Homo sapiens: one gene and its partners. Each later gene encodes a partner of the first gene's protein in a complex. Each region holds a gene or a part of one and is shown in the gene's direction. Other genes may lie near its edges.

What was found.
Region 2: the proteins of KCNIP2 (region 1) and KCND2 are in contact, whole or in part, in a cryo-EM structure (PDB 7UKH), measured with the Homo sapiens proteins. Residues at the interface, in NP_775283.1 of Homo sapiens: Arg112, Gly113, Phe114, Asn116, Glu117, Cys118, Val123, Phe128, Ile131, Tyr132, Gln134, Phe135, Phe136, Tyr144, Leu148, Phe152, Phe165, Leu169, Ile172, Leu173, Arg180, Trp183, Ala184, Leu187, Tyr188, Met201, Met205, Ile208, Met211, His228; in NP_036413.1 of Homo sapiens: Val5, Ala7, Trp8, Leu9, Pro10, Phe11, Ala12, Arg13, Ala14, Ala15, Ile17, Gly18, Trp19, Met20, Pro21, Val22, Ala23, Ser24, Gly25, Pro26, Met27, Pro28, Ala29, Pro30, Trp55, Asp57, Arg61, Arg100.
Region 3: the proteins of KCNIP2 (region 1) and KCND3 are in contact, whole or in part, in a cryo-EM structure (PDB 7W6S), measured with the Homo sapiens proteins. Residues at the interface, in NP_775283.1 of Homo sapiens: Arg112, Gly113, Phe114, Asn116, Glu117, Cys118, Val123, Phe128, Ile131, Tyr132, Gln134, Phe135, Phe136, Tyr144, Leu148, Phe152, Phe165, Leu169, Ile172, Leu173, Arg180, Trp183, Ala184, Leu187, Tyr188, Met201, Met205, Ile208, Met211, His228; in NP_001365898.1 of Homo sapiens: Val5, Ala7, Trp8, Leu9, Phe11, Ala12, Arg13, Ala14, Ala15, Ala16, Ile17, Gly18, Trp19, Met20, Pro21, Val22, Ala23, Asn24, Cys25, Pro26, Met27, Pro28, Leu29, Ala30, Pro31, Asp33, Trp54, Arg60.

Annotation. Positions count from the first base shown.
Region 1 is NC_000010.11:101,833,286-101,841,331, reverse strand, and holds part of KCNIP2 (A-type potassium channel modulatory protein KCNIP2), read left to right. Parts: intron 1-1,460; exon of another isoform or gene 1,461-1,491; coding exon of another isoform or gene 1,492-1,579; intron 1,580-6,908; exon of another isoform or gene 6,909-6,962; coding exon of another isoform or gene 6,963-7,065; intron 7,066-8,046. UniProt on the Homo sapiens protein: Regulatory subunit of Kv4/D (Shal)-type voltage-gated rapidly inactivating A-type potassium channels. Modulates channel density, inactivation kinetics and rate of recovery from inactivation in a calcium-dependent and isoform-specific manner.
Region 2 is NC_000007.14:120,744,684-120,751,392, forward strand, and holds the end of KCND2 (A-type voltage-gated potassium channel KCND2), read left to right. Parts: intron 1-1,096; coding exon 1,097-1,344; intron 1,345-2,997; coding exon 2,998-3,175; 3' UTR 3,176-5,654; downstream 5,655-6,709. UniProt on the Homo sapiens protein: Voltage-gated potassium channel that mediates transmembrane potassium transport in excitable membranes, primarily in the brain. Mediates the major part of the dendritic A-type current I(SA) in brain neurons.
Region 3 is NC_000001.11:111,986,669-111,994,403, reverse strand, and holds the start of KCND3 (A-type voltage-gated potassium channel KCND3), read left to right. Parts: upstream 1-4,735; 5' UTR 4,736-4,899; intron 4,900-5,229; exon of another isoform or gene 5,230-5,656; intron 5,657-7,735. UniProt on the Homo sapiens protein: Pore-forming (alpha) subunit of voltage-gated A-type potassium channels that mediates transmembrane potassium transport in excitable membranes, in brain and heart. In cardiomyocytes, may generate the transient outward potassium current I(To).

The DNA of each region.
Region 1 (8,046 bases):
GCTGAAGCGCGCGCCAGGCTTCGCCTCCCCTTCCCTGCAGTTGGGATTCCTGGGATCGGATTTAGGGTAGTCTGCAGCTCCCGTCTTCCCGGCCCATCAGGCTTGCAGGGAAGCAGCTGGAAAGTTACACCTCAGGGCATCCTGGGTACCTCCGAACATTTTACTTCCCCACTCCCACCCCAAGCTCAAAAGGGAGCTGGGAGAGACTCTTTAGGAAAACAAAACAAAACAAAAAACAGTCCGAGCCCCGCCCGGACCCCTGTCTAATCCCTCAGGTCTTCCCAGCCCGGCGGGGCCGCTGGGCAGTGCGGTTCCGAGGGGAAAGGCCGCGTTTAGCAGCGGCCCTGTCTGAGCGGAAGAGAGAAAGGCCAAGAGAAGATGCGGAGAGGGTTGGAGCCTGGCTGGCTAGCCCTGAGCTCGGTCCCCCGACTGGGATCTCAGTGGAGTCCCTCCGGCCCTGAGTATTGTTGCCGGGGCGGGGGCGCCCCCGTGTGGCTGCGAGGAGCCATGCGCACGGAGCTGCTTTGCGGTGGGGATAGTCGCCGTCAAGTGGACAAGATTTGCCCAGAGTTAGGAGGTCATTCTCACCACTTAAATGTAGGGTTTTCAACCAATCATGCGGGATCCCAGTCGAAAGAGCGGGACTATATCTCTCCCGTAGGCTTTCCCAGGAATTTTAAGGCGTTAGAGAGTCCTGGAAGTGTTTACTTGGGGTCTAACCTGATAGAGATGAGTCCGGAGTCCAGGAAAGGGGCGCAGCGGGACCGAAGTGGGGGGGGGGTGCGGGGGGGGCTCTTCTCGAAGCATTCGGCTGTAGCCAGCGTATGGTGGTAGTCTGTGAACCTGCCGCACCGAGACAAACACAAATAGAAACAGTTATGAGAGCAAGGAATTTGGAGCCAGGAGACAGAAGGCAGTGGGGCACAACTCTGCTGCCTCTTCTTTGCCACCCCAATACACTGGCCTCTTTCTCCTTCCTCCTGGCTTTCTTCCATTGGCCCAGGAAGTGTGGGGAGTTGCCATGACAACTCTGTCCTCTTACCCCTTCGGCTCTTTATGCCAAAATGGTGGGGGCGGGGTGCAGGGTGCGGGGAGGAGTGCGACAGGCGGAGAAAGGGGGGCTGAAAGGGGGCAATAAAAGATACGGTTCATTCCCCATCCAGCTCTTTTCTCAAAACCCACATGTGCCTGCCTGGCCTCCCCGCCAGAACCCAGAAAAATGCTCCCTGAGAAGGCTGAGTCCGCGCCGCCCCTCCCCGCCACCCCCCCCCCCCGTCCAGGAACTTTGGGGGCGGCTGCTTCACATGATGGGGCCAGGGTGAGCTCCTCTCGTGCGGCCAGGAGAACATGGGAAGGCTCCAGGGTTTCGATCCTATGCCTGCCGGGCCGGCCCTCCCGCGCCGCCCACGCGGGCCTACCCGGGTGAGGGCGGAGACCGGACCGCCCCGGGGCCTGGGGGTGGAGCTTAGACGCCGAGCTCGCCGCCAAACCATGAACCGATGCCCCCGCAGGTGCCGGAGCCCGCTGGGGCAGGCAGCGCGATCCCTCTACCAGCTGGTGACTGGGTCGCTGTCCCCAGGTATGATGAGGAAGGGAAGGGAGGGGCAGGATCCTTCAAAAAGTGAGCGAAGTGGGTTAGGAGCTCCGCAGAGGTAGGGAGGGAAGGGCCCCTCAAATAGATGGAGGGAGCAACATCCCTCCAAGGAAAGGGCTTCCAAGACGAGATCCTGGACAGAAGCGGAGCAGGGGATGGGCCTCCTTACTGAGCAGGAGGAAGACAGCGCTCTTCAAAGAGGAAAGGAGAGGGGCATCAAGGTCCCTCACAATGGTGGAGGGGGCGGGGCTTCTCACCGAAGGCAGAGGAGGGGGCCTTAACTGAGGGGCAGGGCGCCTCCCAGGGATGAAAGGAGGAGGCCTGCAGCAGAGCAGGGAAAAAGTTCAGTCCTTTCCTGCATTTCTTGGCTGAAGGGGTCTTAAGATGAAGGGTTCAGTGTCCAGAAGGAAAAAACCCTGAGATGGGCCTAGACCAACATGAACTCAGCTAGCAAGTTCATACATGACATGGGACTGATAGACTTGTGTGGCTTAAGGATTGTATGTCTCTGTTTTCTCTCTCTCTGGGAGTGTGTATTAATGGGATTGTGCATTACTAAGTTGTGCATCACTGGGCTATGTATGGCTGAGTCTGTGTCTCCCTGGGGTTGTGATCACTGGGATTCTGTGACACTGAGACTGTGTGTACCTGGAGTTCTGTACTTTAGGACTGGGTTGAGGGTTCCTGAGCCTCTAAGTTGGTTGTGTAGCCTTCGTGAGGTTGTACCTTGGTGTGAAATTTGTGGAGTGTATGAGGTGTGGATTGTTGAGTATCCCACGGCACTGCTGAGGTGTATGCACATCTCCACTTGCATTTCCTTATGACTGCTTGGGCAGGGCCCATAGAACGCAACGTCTCCTCTGTACCTGACCTCAAACAGACCAAAACAACCTGGTCCTGTGGCATTCTGAGATCTGTCATTTTCTGGCTCTCTCCATGGGTATCCACTTGAGCCCCTGGAGTATAGATAGGGCCTGTGGCCTCTCCTTGCCATCTGTCCCCCAAAAGGAGGGTAGATGGATGGTCCTGAGCCAGAACCATACCTGGAAATCTTCTGGGGAGCATACAACCTCCAAGCCCCCTGCTTGGGCCTGTCTCCAGTGACAGATGGCTGGAGCCAGGCAGGGCCAGCTCTCAGTCATTGCAGGCATGACTTCCAGGACCCAAAATAGCCCCAACGTCTAGGGAGGTCATTAATCACTCGATGCAGCTGGGGGCTGCAGTGTCTTTGGCCTAGCTGGGAATGGTGTGGGTCTGGGGGACTGAGAGAAGGGCTTTGAGGTCTTCACTGGCTGGGTTAACAGTGGCGGTGGGGGGTGGGACAAAGCTAAACTGGGGAAGGTGGGACAGTTGCATAGAGTGGGTTCCCCCACAAGGCAGTGTTACTCACATTTGAACTGGGGGAGATAAATAAATAAATGATAGGAATATCTCTGTGGTAAGATTTGAGGGATCTGGGGAAGGCCCACCTCATGCCTCGAGATGGTTTTCCCTTGAGTTCCCACTCTGCCAAATTGCTTCCACAGAGATTTTACTTTGAGTGAAGAGCTAAATTCGTGGCACAGGGATGCTTGGGGAGGATGGATCTGGCAAGTTTCTCACTGAACCCGAGGACTTGAGAAGTCTCTGAGTGGGGAGAAGGGACAGCCTGGAAAAATAACTCATCCTTTCACTCCTGACAGACTCTGCCACAGGATGCCTGGCTGATTTAGGACCATGAGTCCTGGCAAGGCTGGGTCAAGGTCTCTGAGAGTTGAGAGTGGGAGTTAGGAAAAGGAGGGGCCAGGGCCAGGGCCAGGTCCAGGGCAACTGGCTGCAAGTTATCAGTAGCAGGGAGCAAGAAGGGGCTGTTGTGGGGCCCCTTTCCATTCAAATAGTCTGGCTTGGCATTCAAGGTTTCATGGAATTTGACCCTTTTTGATTTTATTACCCATAGCTCCCTTACCTAAACTAAGCTGTAGGCCCTAGGATTCCTTGACACCCCGCACATATTGGAGAGACTGCCTGAGGGAGCTGACAGATCACTGACTCTGGTTAAACAACTCATTATTATTATCATTATTATTATTATTGAGACAGAGTTTTGCTCTTTCAGTCAGACTGGAGTGAAGTAGCGTGATCTCAGTTCACTGCAACCTCCGCCTCCCAGGTTCAAGCAATTCTGCCTTAGCCTCCTGAGTAGCTGGGATTACAGGCAAGCACCATCACGCCTGGCTAATTTTTGTATTTTTAGTAGAGACGGGGTTTCACCATGTGAGTCAGGCTGGTCTTGAACTCCTGACCTTGTGATCCACCCGCCTCGGCCTCCCAAAGTGCTGGGATTATAGGCGTGAGCCACTGCACCCAGCCAAACTCATTCTTAATTAGCATGTCAGCTGTTATCTTGGAAAAAAAATCACTCTTTTTTCCCAAGATAAGCAGGGAGCTTATCTTGGCGGGGAGCTTCAATTCCTTCATCTGCAAAATGGGTATACTATCACTCACTCTGACCATGTCAGCTGTAAAAACAGGAATAATAGATCCTACCTCTCAGGTTTATTATGAGGACTAAGTGAGATACTACATGTAAAGTATCCAGGACACAAAATGTGCTGGATAAATATTATCTTTGTTTATTTGTTTATTTTGAGATGGGGTCTCACTTTGTCATCTAGGCTGAAGTACAGTGGCACAATCATGGCTCATTGCAGCCTCAAACTCCCCACCTTAGCCTCCCAGGTAGCTGGGACTATAGGTGTGTGCCACCACGCCAGGCTAATTATTATTATTTTTTTTTTGAGACAGAGTCTCGCTCTGTTGCTCAGGCTGGAGTGCAGTGGCGTGATCTCGGCTCACTGCAACCTCCACCTCCTGGGTTCAAGCACTTCTCCTGCCTCAGCCTCCCAAGTAGCTGGGATTACAGGTGTGTGCCACCACGCCCGGCTAATTTTTGTATTTTTAGTAGAGACAGGGTTTCACCATTTTGGCCAGGCTGGTCTCAAACTCCTGACCTCGTGATCCACCTGCCTCGACCTCCCAGAGTGCTGGGATTACAGGCATGAGCCACCTTGCCCAGCCCAGGCTAATTTTTTGTAGAGACAGAGTTTCGCCATGTTGCCCAGGCTGGTCTGGGACTCCTGATCCAACCTTTAGGGATTGGCAAGCAATCCCTAAATAGACTTTTTCCTAGGGGAAAGGAGTGGAACAGACCAAGCCTATTTGAGGCCAGACGCGGTGGCACACGCCTGGAATTCCAGCACTTTGGGATGCCGACGGGGGCAGATCACTTCAGGCCAGGAGTTCGAGACCAGCCTGGCCAGCATGACAAAACCCTATTTAAAAATATAAAAATCAGCTGGGCGTGGTGGTGCACGCCTGTAATCCCAGCTATTCGGTGGCTGAGGCACGAGAATCGCTAGCGCCACCGCACTTTAGCCTGGGTGATAGAACGAGACTCTGTCTCAAAAAAAAAAAAAAAAAAAAAGAGAAAAAAAAGCCTGTGTGAAGCGTCATCTTCCCACCTCTTCCCTGGATGGGGCAGGTCGGGGAGAAGGAAGGTGTATGGTACTGTGTGAGGTTGGACGCGTGCCCCCCGGTGGTGGCTGTATAGAACTGCAGATCAGCCAACCTCGACTGGGGCCTTAGGGACTGGCCCCCACCCCACAAATTGGGCTGAGACACAGTCATCCCAGAGCTGGACAAGAGGGAGGGCTCCTTCTGGGGCCAATCCCCCTAAATTGGGCCTCCTGGCTGGGCCAGCTTTCTAAGAAGGGAGCCAGTGTAGTGTGGTGGTTTAGAGTGAAGGCTGAGTCAGACTGGGTTAAAATTGAAGCTCTGATCTTGAAGATTTGCTTAACTTCTCTTTGACTTAGTTTCACCACCTGTAATATGAGGATAATAGTATGCCTTCATAGGCTTATTGTGAAAATTCGGTGTTACAACACCTGTAAGCACATAGTGCATTATCTAGTACATAGTGAATGCTCAGTCACCGTTAGCCAGCAGCGGTAGTAATGGTGTTACTAACCCAGAGGCCCTAGTCTTGTGGCTCATTGGCTCTGTAGGCCTCTCCCCACCCCTTTACACACACAAACACCCCACCAAGAAGAAGCAGGGAAGAGGAGGGAGGGACTCCGGGGATGCTGGCTGGGAGGGGTGGCTCCCTTAGAAGGTTCAGATTTCCCTCCTACAGCAGCTGGGCTTCTCCATCAGCTCAATAACAGTTCCTAAGGAGCAGGCAGGGCTTTAGCATCTCCCGGATGAGGTCCCAGCCACATACGGAGCCAGCACAGTCCCCCCTCCTCTCCCAAGAAGCTTGGGTTTCTTGACCCCAAAGGCAGCTGCAGTAAGTCCCCTCCCCAGAGGGTCCTGATGGGGTTAAGTGGCCTTTTTCTGCCTAGGCTACTACTGTATCTTATCCCCCCTCCCTTGGGCCTCAGTTTCACTGCCTGTGGCCTGTGGGAAGAGAGTGCTTCCCTCCTCACAGTCTCCATGGCAACCAAATCGATATTGGTGATATCCTCCTAGCAGGAGAGGTCACTGCCTTCTCCGCCATTATTCTCATACAATTCCATGCCAATACAATGACAAAACAGTAGACCCACCCTCCAAATTATACAACACATCCATACCTAACAAACTTCAGACCCACATCCTACAACCCTACTAAAACACAGGAACCTCACTCCCCATGCACACTCACAAATACTTCAACACACTCCTACACATGCAGACCATAGACACCCAGCTCACATACCCATATACGCAAGAGTCAAAATGCATAACCATACGCCAAACACACACCTCTGTGACAGGTGCACAGTCACGTGTAAGCACACAAAGACACACATAAGAGGAGACATATGCACTGCCATACTGACAAACACAGGAATATACACACAGGAAAACACCTGGCCACCACAACATATTCTGACCCATGCATCTGATTACTTATACATGTGCAGATGGTGGTTTCTCATGCACATACACCCTGCCCTTCCCTGCCTTCTCCCTAAGCTCAGCTCCTCCCTCTGCCCCTTCCCTTTGGCACAGAGTAGCCACAGGATGTCTAGGGGAAGCACTTCTCAGGGACAGAGGCGGGTCACTGCTCCCTCCCTCTGGCCCATATCTTGGCCAAAAGTTCCCAAGGAGGTGCCAGTCCAAAGGCTGAGGTGGCCCTGCGAAGAGGAAGAGGCGGCGGCTGTGGTTGGGAGGCTTGTGGGGCAGAGGCGGGGTGATGGGGGAGAGGAAGGAGATCCTGGGAGGGAGAGTGGGAGGGAGGCTGCAGGCAGTCCTACTCAGGCTGGGGAGTCTGAGGGGGAGGTGGTGTGAGGCGGTGAACCGGCGTATCTGAACCTGGGCCCTGTAGGGGCCATGCCCCAGGCCCACCATGAACCTGGAAGGGCTGGAGATGGTTGCTGTGCTCGTGGTCCTCGCTCTGTTTGTCAAGGTCCTGGAGCAGTTTGGCCTCTTTGAGCCTGTCTCCTTGGAAGGTAATCCAGGTGTCCTGGCATGTCTGAGCTGCTGGCTGGTGGGGCAGCTGCCCCACAGCACTAGGGAGGGTGTTTGTCTGTCTTCATGACTGGGGCAGGGATGAGCAGGTGAGTGATGGCACAGGGATCTGGGAGGTGAGTAGGGGTGCTTGGGGGATACAACATCTGGGAGGGGTGAAGAGGAGGCCTCAAGGAGTAGATATGGAGGGAGGAGGGAATCTGGGGGACCAAGGTGTCAGGAGGTGATGAGGGGTGCAGTGTGGGAGGACTGGGGTGTGGAGATGAGGAGGTGAGGGGATTCTGGGCGATACCAGGAGGGGTCTGGAGATAGGGAAGGAGTGTCTAGAGTAGAGGAGGGAGGTTCTAGGGATCCTGAGATAACAACGGATTTCTGGGGGGTCCTTTTTGGAGTCAGGGGCCCACCACGGTGCCTGTGCATCCTCTCCACACCTCCATCTGTGCAGTGTAGCTTATGGGGTGTGTGGGCATAGTGTGTGAGAGACACAGGGTGTGACTTTGTGTTCCTGTATGTGAGAGAGTACAAAGTGTGTAACTGTGAGCCTGTGTATGGGACAGGGATATGACTGTATGTGTGAGAGTGACAGGGCATGTGGCTTTGTGAGAAGGTGGATGTGGCCAGGCCTGAGTGGCACAGTATGTGGCTGAGCCTCTGGGTATCAGGTTGTGCATGTGGCTGTTTCCAGAATTTCCTGAGGATATACCAGCTCCATACCCAAGGCTTGGGAGGAGGTGGGTTCTGGAGGGAAGAGTGTGAACATTGTGAAGGAGACATTTATAGCCCAGCTATGATTGGGGATGAGGAGTGGATCAGATCAGGGACCCTGCTTCCCAAGTCCCCTTGCCTCTCCAAGCTCCTATCAGGATCCAAGTGCAGAGTGATCTCCAGGGCCTAGACATTGGGAGTGGAAAATCAACTCCCCTCCCCAGCCCACCCCAAAGTCAGTAGGGAGAGTAATATTG
Region 2 (6,709 bases), on another chromosome or scaffold:
AAAACGAGTAGCTAAAACATAATCTATTTCTTATTAGCCAGTGTCTTGCTTCAATTGTTTTACTCATATTTTAGGATGAGAGATGGTTAAGTGGAATTTGGTATGTGCAAAGCCTTCCATTATAAGACTATCCCCACCCATGCAAAGAAAAACAAAATAGTAATTGAGGTCATTCTCTAGTAGTTCAGACCAAAAATGTTTTCCTTTATATTTCTGAGGTGAAATTCTTCCATAGGCATTTCAGGAGGTTTTTTGTCAAACATTTTAAAAGCAAAATTGATACCATGTTTCTATAAAATACGATATGCGAAATGATGCCTATTGCTATTTGCTACTGGGCTGGAAGTTAGGAAATAGTGACGGAAAAACCCCAAATGCATACAGAGATCATGAGTACAGCCAGTGATGCCAGTGATGTATTACGAAGATTACAAAAAAGGCCACAAAAGTTCAATGCTAATCCCTTCTGGGTCGAACACAGAGTGACACATTCGGCAGACAATTATATTTTACTTATGTAACGAATAAGTCATATTTTTCTGTACTGGGCATTTTTAGAGGAACATATAAAGAAATGGATAGTGTCTTAGGGGTCTCATTTTCTAATTTAGAAATGTTTTCACTCCCATGTGAAAAGATTTGCTAATATATAACAGACAATCTAACTTGGGGCATCCTATTAAAATAATCTATTTTCCATAACTTCAACCTTTTTAAAAAATAAAGTCAGTGGGAATTTCTAATTTCCCTGTGGGTTTTATCTATATGCATTTTTTAGGTTTTTTTTTTCCTTATCATATACCTTCCAGATTTTATGTTTAAATAAATAAATGATATTTCAAGATAAAGTTAGTCTATAAAGGGACACTAAATCAGCCTACAGATGTCAATCTCTAGGTTTAACTACAGAGATAGTTCCACATAAATGCCAAAAAGAAGTGGTTTTGATGTCAATCTTTATGAAAATGGTTTTATTTAACCATTGTATCAAGTCTAACTATACTTGGGCAGATTTGAGCTTTAAAAATAAAGCTATGTATTTCGTTTTTAAAAATGTGCTTCTCTGTTTCTTCATTTACTTACAACTGTGGAACAGAATCACGAGTTTGTGGACGAACAAGTCTTTGAAGAAAGCTGCATGGAAGTTGCAACTGTTAATCGTCCTTCAAGTCACAGTCCTTCACTGTCTTCACAACAAGGAGTCACCAGCACCTGCTGTTCACGACGACACAAAAAAACTTTTCGCATCCCAAATGCCAATGTATCAGGAAGCCATCAAGGTAGTATACAAGAACTCAGCACGATTCAGATCAGATGTGTGGAGAGAACACCTCTGTCTAACAGGTACCTGAGATTAATCTGTGTTGTCTACACACCTGTGCTGGTTCCCAGGGTGTGTCTTCTGCACTCATGTTGTCACTTACATGGCATCTAAATCCCTAGCTCCTATGGTTCAGGAAGAGACAAAAATGGTAGCGTAACAAGTAGGAAAATGGTTCTGCTTGCATATCCATTAAGGGTTAAAAATAGTGGTTATATCAGTATTAAAAGAGTCGAAAGAAGAAGAGATGATTGAGTGCACACAAATGTGTTTTTCTCTCTTCTGTTCCACAACCTTTTCTTATTTGGGCAAGGACTTTTATACTCAGGAGTCTCTTATATATTCAATAGTCTGAAATGATGGTGGACACTACTAAAAGAGTCAAATGAAATTGAGATCAACATGGCTAAAAATTATTGAACAGCATGTAAAAATATACAAACACACTGTCTGTAACAGTAAAAATGAAAACTTTGCCTACATAAGTCATTTCTATCAATATATAATTTTGATCAGAAAGGTATTTTTGGCCATATCAAACACAAAATCAACATAATACAAAAAATAAGTGAAGTACTAAAATTGTTTGCCTCTGGTTAGTTTATGAACAAATTAAGTAAAACTTCCATATTGATATATTTCCTTTGCTTTTCCTTATTCACTGTTTTTACCACAAATGTGTAAAAATAAAAAGTTGTACATTTAAACAATATATGTCATTAAAAATCAGTTTCTGCCAAAATAATTTTATTCTGTTTTCAAATTGAACAGCATATATTGTTAGAGTGAGAGTCTGTAAATTCAGTCCTCTTCTTTGTTGGCATTCAGAAGTCTTTGTTGAAATCTGGATGAGATTCTGAATTCAGGTGATGTTGATTTACATAAATTGGATGTCTCTGGGACTAGAAAATTAAAATTAGGAGCCATAAGACTTCTATCTTCAAGATATTTTAGCTTTGCAGTTTTATATCCTTTATAAAGTGAAGTCGACAATGGAAAATTATCTAGCAAGAAAATCTTAGGACATAAACATCTTAATTATGTTTTCCATGAAAATAAAATAATCAGTTTCAAGCTTCTGTGTATATCCTTCTCTCTCATTTCCCTTTTATCCCCTTCCCCACATAGAGTATACAATTCATCCAATAATACCATTTGGGAGCTTGAAGTGTTAGATAGTAATAGATAATTTTTTTATTTCTGTAATATGTGATCATCATTAAGTTCAGAGGTTTGAGGGCATTATATATCCCAAAAAGACATGAAAATAAAAATATTCTGTGGTCAAAGGAATTAAGAAATCAATGTGATATGGCTCTTTCATAGTGGTTTCTCAAACCTCTCAGAGGTCTGTCTTAAATAAAACTTCTTTGCTCAGCCCAGGCTGTCCAAATCTTACTTGAAGCTCTTTCTTTCTTACATTTTTTTATAATACATTTAGTTTGATAAATACTTGATGGAACCAAGTCAAACTGTCTTTTAGAAATTTATTTAATGTTAATTACTATGTTCATCTTTAACATAGATTAAGATTTGGTGTTTCATATTTTTAATTATAATAACTTTCCTTAGACAATTAAAATATTTTTATAAGCATTACAACACATATTCTTCAGTTGTATGAAAAACATTTTAAGTAAACAACTTACTTTCCTAAATATTTTTTTTTCTATCAGCCGATCCAGTTTAAATGCCAAAATGGAAGAGTGTGTTAAACTAAACTGTGAACAACCTTATGTGACTACAGCAATAATAAGCATCCCAACACCTCCAGTAACCACACCAGAAGGAGACGATAGGCCAGAATCCCCTGAGTACTCAGGAGGAAATATTGTCAGAGTTTCTGCTTTGTAAGACAATTGGAATAAGGTCTAAGAGAATTCGAGCCCTGGCTGTGAAAAGAATCTCAACATAGAAGAAAGAAGAAACAATAAATATTCTGCAGATTAATGCAGCAAAGAAAGAAGGTTGGTAGTGAAACACAAAGCTTCCAATCTTAAGGATGTGAATAAAACCACCAAATGGCATTTCTAGACAGTTTGACCTGTTATACAGAGTAATATTCTGTGGCCCTTTGACTTTGTGAATGAGCACAATGAAATGCCGCCTACTGATGCTTCTTATGATCAGAACTCTTTTTTAATAAAATAAATAACATAAATCGTTGAACATAATGTTCCAGTTGAATGCAAAACAAAAAAAATATGGAAAACATTTTGATAAAATTTTTTCCTGTTAAAACCATGAACATTGGCTATGATGAAGATTATTACATATGAAAAAAAAACTCACACAACATATTTGTATTGACTGAAGGAAACCATCATAATGCATGCTAGAATTCTTTGAAGCAGTGATCTCAGTTTCCTTATGTTGTCTTCAGAATAGGCATGATAAACTATAATTGTAGAAAGGGGTAATTTCTGTGCACTTACAACAAGCTGAGTGTTCATGTTCCATGGTGGGCTGTGCAAATAAACTCCTTTTAGACCTGCAGTATTTCTCATGGGGATGCTCATTAGTAAATCTAAAGTGTTCAGATAGTTCAGTATTCATTATCGTTTAACTTTGCACCTAGATACTGTTACAACTGCAATAATTTGTTGTACAACTGTTGTATCAGGAATCAGGATTTTTTTGTTGTTGTACTTTCCAGATCCTTATAGATACGGTAAGAGCCACATTCGTAGAAAAACTTCTGGTGTGGCCAGGTTTTAGGTAACTTTTTAATCCAAAACTATTGTGCCATAAATGTTTTTCAGTAATATTTTTTGGTCCACTGTATTCCTGTGACACAGTGCATTATCTGTTCTTGTATTTCTATAGCACCTCTCTATTGGGTTTATCATCATCAACAAGACTACTGTTTACTGTAGTTCAAGTGACTTTCCTACTTTTGTATTTCCAAAAAAAATTATCTTGTAAGTAGCTTGTCATCAATCCCCTTGTCGAAAACTAGAAAAAAAGGAGTTGACCCATATAAATTATCTCTAACGTCTTTGTTGTTTATGGAAAAGCCCAGATACTGGATATATCACTATGTATTTTATGAACAGAATTGACTGGGACTAATATCACAGGATCAATCATCTCAGAATCTTACTTGATGCATTATTTATTTTGCTTTAGATCTTGAATACATTTTGAGAATAACTAATGTGGATTGAAATGTAGAGATACACTGGAGTGCTTTATTTAGCAATATTTGATGAAAGCATGCTTTCTACGCCATTCAGGAAGGCAGCACAAATTTATCTCAGAAAGGTTCCTGTGTATTGCAAGGTACAATTTTCTCCAATAAATCAGGAGAACAGGAGTTTGATGATGCAAAGTTGATCTCTGTACATTTAAGTGAAAAGTCTTTATAACTTTTCACCCTTAAAATATTTCAGCAGACATGTCTGCACATGACAGTGTAAAAAAGTTTAATGTCAAATGCAAAGTTTTTATTCATTCCAAGCCACCACTGTAAGGAATAAAGCTTAGCTTCTGTACATGGAAAGAGCTAATAATTATCCCTCTGTCAGAGATGAGATTTTTAAATGCTTATGATATTTAATCATAAAAAGGGATTAATCCAACCATTTTCTAGTAAAGCCAGAAATTCTTGCTTCCCATTTCTAGAATAGTTTCTAGAACAGTGCTATGCACATATTAGATCTTAATAAACATTTGCTGAGTGAAAGTAAGATAAACTCAACTATCTCTTGGGAAGAACTGGCTTCATTCCTAGTACATCTTTTAAAAAGTTACTAATTTTCCAGCAGTACAAATATTAACAATTATATTAACACCTGCCTCATGTCAGTTTATGCTTCTAGAGCAATGTCTAGTGAAACTTATCTGATGGCATTTATTGAAAACCTTCTAAAAAGTAGACTAAGGAAACCATAATCAGAATTACTATGTCTTTTGATTCCCAATGAGAAGTTCTATTTTCATGTTCTTAATATTACATACAAGAAAATGCAGTTAGGTTATTTCAATTGACAATTCTGCCTCCTCTTTTGATTTATCACTTACCCAAAATTATTAATTTTATTAGGCTTTTGGAAAAGAAAAAAAACTTTTTGATGTTTTAGGTGATTTAAAAATATACCGTGTTGGTGGTGAATGACTATTGATGACTGTGTTAAGTGCATCTGTATTGTAAGTGAAATGTAATTATTTCTGTGTACCATATGGAGTAACTAAGGTCATTGTTTTTGACAATTTTGTTTGAAATTCATATATCTTATTTCAAAGGATAGCATAATATCTGCATTATGCTGGAAAAAAATAGACCTTTGGAGAATACTTAAATAAAACATGTGCATGCTTGAACAGGACAAAATGTTGACTGTTGCCCTATTTTCTTAGATTTCATTCCTTTCCCAAAATTAGGATATGCCACACTCATAATACACATGTTGGAGGACCTTGTGAGACATACAACTCAAAGGACACAGCAATTGAAAGTAATGCTTAAATCTCATCTGAATGGGTGGAGACAGTAGCTTTTGCTAGTAATGGGAATTAAGGCAGGGACTTTAACAGAAAAGATAGTATCAATTAAGGAAAGCCAGTCCCTGAACCTTATATACTTCTTAAACACCACTACTTGCATTAAGCAGAGAAGCTCAGGGGTAATGGTTTTGGTCAGAACTTAAATAAATTCTTAATCAAAGGCTTTATTCTACCTAGGAAAGCGGGGTGATTTATTTGCCTAGCCATTTGTGTGCATGTATGTGTATATGTAGATATAAATTTGTTCATACACATATACATAGATTTTCATTCATTTTTAATATGCAACCACTAATGGTTTCTCTTAATATCTTGAAAGGGCTAAAAAGCAAGAAAATGTTAAGAGTTTATAGAAGAAGGAAAAAGACACAAAGGAAATTATTTAGTAGAAAGACTGATTTTAACTGGTGATATATATGGTCCTCTTGGTGGATAGTCTCTATCTTTTCTTGTTAATTATTTTCATTTATAGCCTTTGATTTATTAGGTATCAATCTTGCATTAAAAAGTTCAATATGCCTCCCTATTCCTTCAACTTAGTCACAATGTTGGCTTAGAAATAGCCTCTTGGGAGCTATAATGTGTCTGCCAGTAACATTGCTCAAAAGAATAAAAAAGGGTTCTTGAAAGTAAATTGATAACTCCTTAGAGTTTCATAAGAAAGGCATCTTCTCTTCCCTACAGTGTCATTAAGGTGTTTGTTTTATTAACTCACTGGTACAAGAATGGTTATTACTCTGCACTGTGTAAACATCTGAATTTTCAACACAATTGTGTAGGCACACAGTATTTTTTTAATGAAGGTTTAAATTGTACCTACGAAGGTTTAAGTCTTATCTACTTCAGCTGGTTGTATTAGGATACTAAAATATTCTTTACAGA
Region 3 (7,735 bases), on another chromosome or scaffold:
CAGGAACTCACTCATTACCATGGGGAGGGCACCAAGACATGCATGAGGGATATGCCCCCATAACCTGAACACCTCCCACTAGGCCCACCTCCAACATTGGGGGTTGCATTTTAACATGAGATTTGGAGGGGACAAATATTCAAACTATGTCAACCCCACACATAACTTATGGAGGCCAAATACAGGAGAGGTCAAGAGTGTCCTCTTAGGATAGCCCCTCTATCTGACTGAGGAGGATACTCTACTTTCAGAAGCGGGGAAACCAAGGATCCTGGGATAGCGGCAAAAGGGAGAGGTCAGAGTTCCAATCCAGCTATGCAGCCTCACATCCTTCTGGAGTGTCCCTCTCCACCAGCTACCTTCAGGTTCTCTATCAATAAAATGATGGTAATATCTACAGTGCAGGATTATGGAAAATCTAGCAAGGAGCCCAACATATGGTGGCTCCTCAGCTTACAGCTGATATGCTAAGCCAAGCATTTGCAACGTTGCTTTCATCCCTTGGACAGCCTCCTGTCCTTCAGAGCTCCTCTTCCTGCTAGCAGCTTCCTGCGGGCCCATCGAGGTGAAATAAACTCTAATAGCAACTGAATAAAAGCTCACATGCCCAGCTGTGGGAATAAGGGATGGAACGCAATGGCAGTATGAAAGTGAGAGTACCCCAAACCCAAGGGGAGCCTTGGGGAGAATGAGGTGCCACCCTCCTGAGTTTCTCGCTGGAGCTCACTTTCAAAAGGCCTTGCTTTCAGTGGTTAAATAAGGGAGGCTGGGACCACATGGATAGTGAGGGGCCCGGGACTTACTCTTCAGCATAAAATCGGCTCCCAAGAAATGTCCCATGGGCTTCTGACATGGTCAAGCCCCTTCCTCATCTCTATCCCTAGACTCTTCCTCTATTCCTTCAACAGAAATCTCCCTTTTCTGGGACTTACAGAATTAACTATCTCAGCAAGGTGAACTTGACTGCCTGTGGGCTGTGGCCTGCCATTTTTATTGTTACATGCATGGGTGGGTGAGTGACTATATGTGTCTCTGTGTACAATCCGGCAGTTCTATCTTCCTCCTCAGACAGATTTCTTTGCACCTCCTGCCTGCACCACTCCTACCTTGAACAACAACAACCAACAATTATATTGTACTTCCCATGTTCCAGGCACGATTCTAAGCACTTTATCTGTGTTACTTCATTTAATTTTCACAACCCTATAAAGTAGATAGTATTATTTATTGCCATTTGAGAGAGGAAGAAATCATGGCACAGAGGGATTAAGTACCTTCCACATGATCACACAGCTAATTAACAGCAGACGCAGGTTCAAACCCAGGCAGTCTCACCTCAAAGTCTGTACTTTTTACTTCTAAGGTACATAGCACCCTAAATGTAGAAAGGCTGTAACCCTCAGAGGTACAGCCCACCCCCAAAATTCTTGCCCCAGCATGGGGCAGATTGCTAAAATGGGACAGCTATAAGCAGTGAGGGTGGGAGTGACCCTTAAGGACATTCTCAGGCATATGAGGCATAGCTTCAAAGAGAGAGCCTGAACAGAGCAGCCCTGGGAAACAGCCACGCAGACACACTAGCCTGGCACGTCAGCAAAGAAGCAGCCGACTTTGAGCTGGGCTCCCAATTACCCTCACAGTCCACACGGTGACAAGCTTTGCAAATACCGGCCACAGCCATGAGACTAAAGAAGAATCCTCATGTGTGCACAGCTTGGAAAGGACACACACACAGAGAAAGAATAGTCATCCATAGGAGCACCGTCTTTAAATAGAAAAGATAGCCTGAAATACACCCTGAGCTCGCGGGTGCTCACACACACAGACACACACGGCCAGGGCCAGAGGAGTGACTGAACAAATGCCTCAGCTGTGCTGGTGGCAACGGGAGGAAATCTAGTGCCCTGGCAGCTCCTGACTTTCAGTTCCTATTTAAAATGTCTGAATTGGGAGCATCGACAAGCTCCCAAATTAGCTTTTTAAATAGAAGCTGAGAGTTAAAGGAAAAGCGGCCGTGTCATGGGGGAAAAGCAAGTGAAAATCCCGGCCAGGCCGGGACCAGAGGCAGAGGGGGAAGGTGAGGACAGGCAGTGCTGGAAAGATGCAATAGATGACTGGGGACTGGTGGGAGGGACAGCATCTCCTGGGCAGCAGGACTACTCCAGCTGCCCGAATCAAGGGGCCTCCTTTCTCCCCATCGCTTGCTCTCATTTTGCAGATCACCTGGTTGTAGGAAGGACTGGTAAACAAAACCCACACTGGCCTAGACTAGAAATCCCAGTCTTTCCTATTTTCCCTAGATGGTTAAGACAGAAAGGAGAGAATAGTCTACAGCTACCACACTTAAGCAATGAGTTACGAGCTTATGAGGAATGAGGGGGCAGGTGTCTGGACCAGTGTCTGGTCTTCAAACGGAGCTTACGAGTCTCAGGAGGCCACAACTGTCCCATTAGTTGACTTTCTGAGGAGAAATGATGTGCCCAACTGTCTCCTGAAGCCTCCAAACACTGAGGGGGGCACTCAACCCCTGAGCTGCCCCCAAGATGCTAAACAACAGTGAGAATGTACAGGAGTTCAAACCTGGGCAGAAATAAAATATGGGTTTCACTTTCCCGAATTGAACATGGGATGGAGTACTGAAGGAAAGTGCCCCTGCCTCCTGAGTAGTGACCACCCAGGACCTGAGGCACTTTATCCCAGGGGTCAGAGCAACTGAGGAGTGCAGTTGCCAGAAAATTAGCCCTTCCCCAGAGGAAAGGGAGGAGGGAGGTGGGAGCAGCGCCAGGGCCTTCCCCGAATTCTTCCCCTGTCTGCCAGGGAGTGGCAGTGTTGTTAATCATTATTACTGTATGCAAATCCCACACAGCTCCGGGACTCCTGGCAAACGCTAATGGAGCCCACGCCCACCTCCTGAAGGGCCAATTGTGTACCTTTCAAACTGACAGACTGAAGGGGGCTCCGGAAAAAGTAAGAGTGAGTGAATGAGGGACTCCAAGGTGCCAGGGGCCACAAGGGCCCAGACCACAATTACCGACTTCCACTCCTTCATCTGGAAGAGGGCTAGGGGTTCTCACAAGCCAGAAGCCCCGTTCCGGATTCAGGGAGGTCCTTTTCCAGCCCTGGGTCTACAATTGTCCTAGGGTCTAGAACACCCTCGCAGTCTAGAACACCCCAGAGGTCACAACGCACTTTGCATTTCTCTGCCTCGGCACCCACCTCTCCACACCCAGAAATGTGATCTCTCAAGCCAAGCGTTCCCCGTCCCTGCTGGGGCACGGAGCTGCCTCGCTTCCGGAGCGCCAGGCCGAGATCCAGGATTCCGGGCACCGAGGCTGGAGACACCGGGAAAGCCGGAGCCGCGGGTCCGCCCAGCGGCGGGGACTGCGCCCTTTGCGCGCCGCCGCCCTGAGGGTGGGAATCTGGGCCGGACACCTGGCCCTGTGGGCACATGCTGACCTTCCCACTCCCCATCCTGGGTCGACGAGGCACGGAGCAGTGGGGACCCATGGGCTTCAGGGAGGGACTGAGGGGCTGGGCGGGCTCCAGTTGTAAGGGGACCGGCTCGGGTGAGAGTTCACGCTCCCAAGTCCAGACTCCCGGTCTAGGTAGTGGGTAGACGTGGCGGGAGAGGAGGGCGAATCTCGACCTTCTGATGGTGCCTTCGTCCTCCGAGAGGAGAGCGGCTCATAGGTGGGGTTAGAGGCAGTGTGTCCCCCGGGTACCTCTTCAGCCTCTGCACTCGGAGCTGAGAGCCGGGGGCCAGCCGCAAAGATTGCGCGGTAGGGGGCCCCACCTTGCCAGGTCGCCGGGCTTGGTCTCAAGCAGGTGCTGCTGCCCTGTGGACAGTCAGCGAGAAATAGACACACAGCTAGGTGCACACATACCCCACGCGCGCACACGCCGGCCCTCCCTGCCACCTCTCCGTGGGTCCCCAGCCACACACGCCCCCGAACTTACGCTCACGCCGTACTCCCTGCTCCTCCCCCACCCCCAAACCCAGCTCACCTTGCCACGCTCACCCCCGTGCCCACCCTCGCTGGCACACGCGCTCACACCCGCGTCGGTACACTCCGCCACCTCCAGGCACACCCTAGGATTCCTCCACTCGCCCGGGGAGACGCACTAGGCTCTGCCTCGTCTCCCCACCCCCCGCTCACGCGCGCGCCCCTCTCCACACACACAGACACACACACACGCACTCACACTCATACACACCCTCGCGCGCGGAGTCACTCCCCCTCGCACGCCCTCGCCCTGGGCACCCTCCCGCGGCGAGACTCCGGGTCCTCCTCCTCTCTTCCTCCACTGCCTGGCGGCTCGGCGCTCTCCGGCCCGGCCTGGGGCCGCTGGGCCCGCGGGGATCGGAGGGGAGCCGAGGGCGCAGCCTTGCCGCCTCCCCCGGACTCTCCTCTCCTCCCCGCCCCGCCTGCGCCGCGCCCCCACCACCTCCCCCCCTCGGGAAAGGGACCTCGGGAGAGGCAGCCCGTGGCCGGCCGGGCTCCGCTCGGCGCGGCGCCGGCAGCGGCGGGGGAAGGGAGAGAGCGAGGGAGCCCGCGAGCCCGCGAGCGGAGCGGCGAGGCGGGGAGGGGACGCGCTGCCGAGCCGGGGCTGGAGCGGCGGAGGCTGCGGCAGCGGCGGCGGCGGCAGTGGCGGCGGCAGTGGCGGCGGCAGTGGCGGCGGGGGAGGGAGGGCCCCACGGACGGACGGACGCACGAACCGACCGAGCGAGGGAGGCAGCGAGCGAGACTGCGCTGGCGAGGAGGAGCCGCGCGAGCGGCGGCTGCTGGGCGCTTCCCCGCGCTGCTGGGCGCTCGGCGCCTCCGCGGCCCCGGCTCCCGGCCGCAGCTTCCTCGCGCGCGCGGGGCGCCGGGCGCGGGGCCCGGGCTGGCTTCGCGGAAGGTAAGAGGGACGCGACCGAGCCTTCTGGAGCCAGGAAGTGCGAGGAGCGCTGCTCCCACGCCTGTTGCTCCGGCTGCCCACGCGGCACCCTCCCACTCCCGCGCCCGGGTGGGTGGGCGCTGGGGCGCCGGAAGGATTGGGGGTGGGGCCCGTGCCGTGGGGGAGCAGACAGCCGGCCCGGGGGCGTCGGTTCCCTCGGGCTGTGGAGCCACCTCCGGGCAGCCAGGCGCTGGGGTTCGGGGGTGGGGTGTGAACCTCTGCCCTCTTTCCATTGGCCTGTCTTCCCTCGGCGGGTGCCAGAGACAGGTGGCGAAGGCTTGCTCCGTCCCCGCTCTTGGTGAGGGGACAAGGAGAGAAATGGCTGAAAGTGGAAACCCGGAGCGGTTTGGGGCGCTTCGCAAAGTTCTCCAGCTCGGCGAGCCGGCGGTGTGTCTACCAGAGGCTGGGGGCCAGTCCATCTGGTCCTGCCCGACGCCACTTCCACCCCGCGAGCTCTGGGAAAGGTCTCTACGTGACGCCAAGGGCCGTCGCGGCCCCGGGGAGAGGGATCGAAAGACTCACTCTGCGAGGTGTTTACACTGGAGGTGGGGGACGGGAAGGGACTGGGCAAAGTTACCTGGACTCAACTAAATTCCTGCGCTTGCTTAGTGTTGACATTTGAATAGGATCCGAGATGTTCTGCTTTTATCCCGGGCAGCCCTGATATGTCAGCAACAGGCTGAGGTTCCAGACCTGAAATCGCACTGCAAGAAAAAGGGTCCGTATTTCTTAAGAGAGAGCGTCTGAACTTTCTCGGGGTCCTAGGCACAATGCGATCTGTTTGTAAGACCAGGCATGCGTTGCTGTATTTTGCATGAATGTACGTGATGGTCAAATGTATGCCTTGTTTACCTTACTTCGAGGGAGCCTGTATGTTTACTGTCTGTAGAAAGGGCTCCTGGGTGTCCACGAATTCAATACAAAGCATGTGTACATTTCCCCATGTGGACCTGTTGGCACACAGGAAGGGAACTGATGTGTTTATTTTTTCCTCGTCTCTACTTGAATGCAACAAAATGCAAGTATACAAGGGACCCCCCAGAGAAAGAGGTTAGTAGCTTGTTCCCTTTTGCTCTTGAGGAGGCTGGAGAAAAAGAGTTCAGGAAAGTGCCCTGGCTAGCCTAGGAGTGGCACCGTTGGAGAAGAGGATCTGTGCGTGTGTCCCAAGCCTGTCCCCCAAGGATCCCCAGCTTGGTTCACCTTGTCAGTTTCATGCTTTGCCTACCAAAATCCTGTGAACACAGGAGAAGCCCTCCGGGTCATGGGCACCTTCCTCTGCCCCCAGACCAGCCCCATTCTGAGCTAGGGGATGTGATGTGAGATTGTGGAAAGTAAGTTTCCAGAGGCTCTCCACTGAGGTCATTGAAGGACAGACCTTGGTGACATGACTTTTTTTGCTGCCTTATGCCTGTACTCAGCTAGGTGTCAAACCCCAGGACAAGCTGTCTGGTCACTCCACCCCCTTTTGGCCTTTTACCTCCAAAATAGAAGCTGTTTAATGGAGTAACTGACTTTTTACAGCAGGGGAAAATGTTTTCCTTTGCCAGGATTTGTCACCTTTTTCATTTCAGAGCTTACCTGTTTTGAATGCCTCTTTTCCAGCCTCCCCCCACCCCCTATCTTTCCCACTGTCAAACTCTTCTGCCAAAAACAAAAATAGCTTCAGATTTTTCATTTGTAAGGCGTCCACGTCCTAGTAAAACCTTGGCATTTGAGGCATGTGCAGTGCCATTGGCTGGAAATGGGGCCGCACTGTTGTGCCTGTTGCAGGAATTCATACCCAGGCCAGCTCCGGAAGGTGTTGGCTCCTGTCAGGGGGTGAATGCTGCTGTATGAGCTGTGGAGAAGGCCTACTTGAGTGGGTCATTCCTGCAGTGTTGTGGGGTGGGTATGGCCAGTGTGGCCTTGGATATGGTATCTGGTGGGACACTTGTCCTCCCCTTTCACCTCCCAACCCCCACACACAGAGAAAGTAACAATGGGGTAATTGCTCCTTTTTTGGTATGTTTTACCAGGGGGACAGGGGCTGAGCCTCTGGAGACAGCCTGGTGCTTGCTTGGCCTTCTTTAGGAAGATTGCCCTGGATTCACGCATGGGGTAAACATTTGGCTGTGGGACCAGAAGCTTTTATGGTCCCAAGATAGGGAGGGGTTAATTTTTCCTTCCCCTGAGCTCTCAATTATTCATCTGAAAGCAGTTTGTAAAGGACTGGTGGTCCTTGGAGATTGGCTTAGGGTAGAGAGGAGAAGGTGATGGGACTCAGCTTGGCAGGGGCAGGTACCTGGCATTAAAGCTTGGGAATCAGGGTAGAGCAGGACTAGGAGAATGAAAGGGGAAGGGCATCACCCTTTCAGGGGGCAGAACTGTGTGTCTGGCCACACAGGGTTCCACAGGGTGCCTCTGATTCAGTGATCTCTTACTTTTTGCCTCTTGAACCCCCTCAAGATTCTGCCTCTCTGAGCTTTATTCTGGGATAAAACAGGATATTAAGGGTCAAAGATCCAGGGCTCAGAGTCTGGGAGCTTGGTCTCCTTTACTCTCTAGGAAGGTGGCCAGGGGTTCTGTGGGTGAACTAGGCCTTGGATTGCCCCTGGTTTCCAAGTGACACAGGTTGTGTGCCCTGTGCTGAGCACCAGCCTCAGCAGGAATTCCCAGAGCTCCCTTTGCTACCTTGAGGCTCAGGCTAACTCCATCCTCACAGCAGTAAGCCCAGATGCTCTACTTCCTTCTTTGCATGGGTGATTGTCATTAAGAGGTCTCAATGAGACCTAAGCTATAGACTTGATGTCCTGGATCC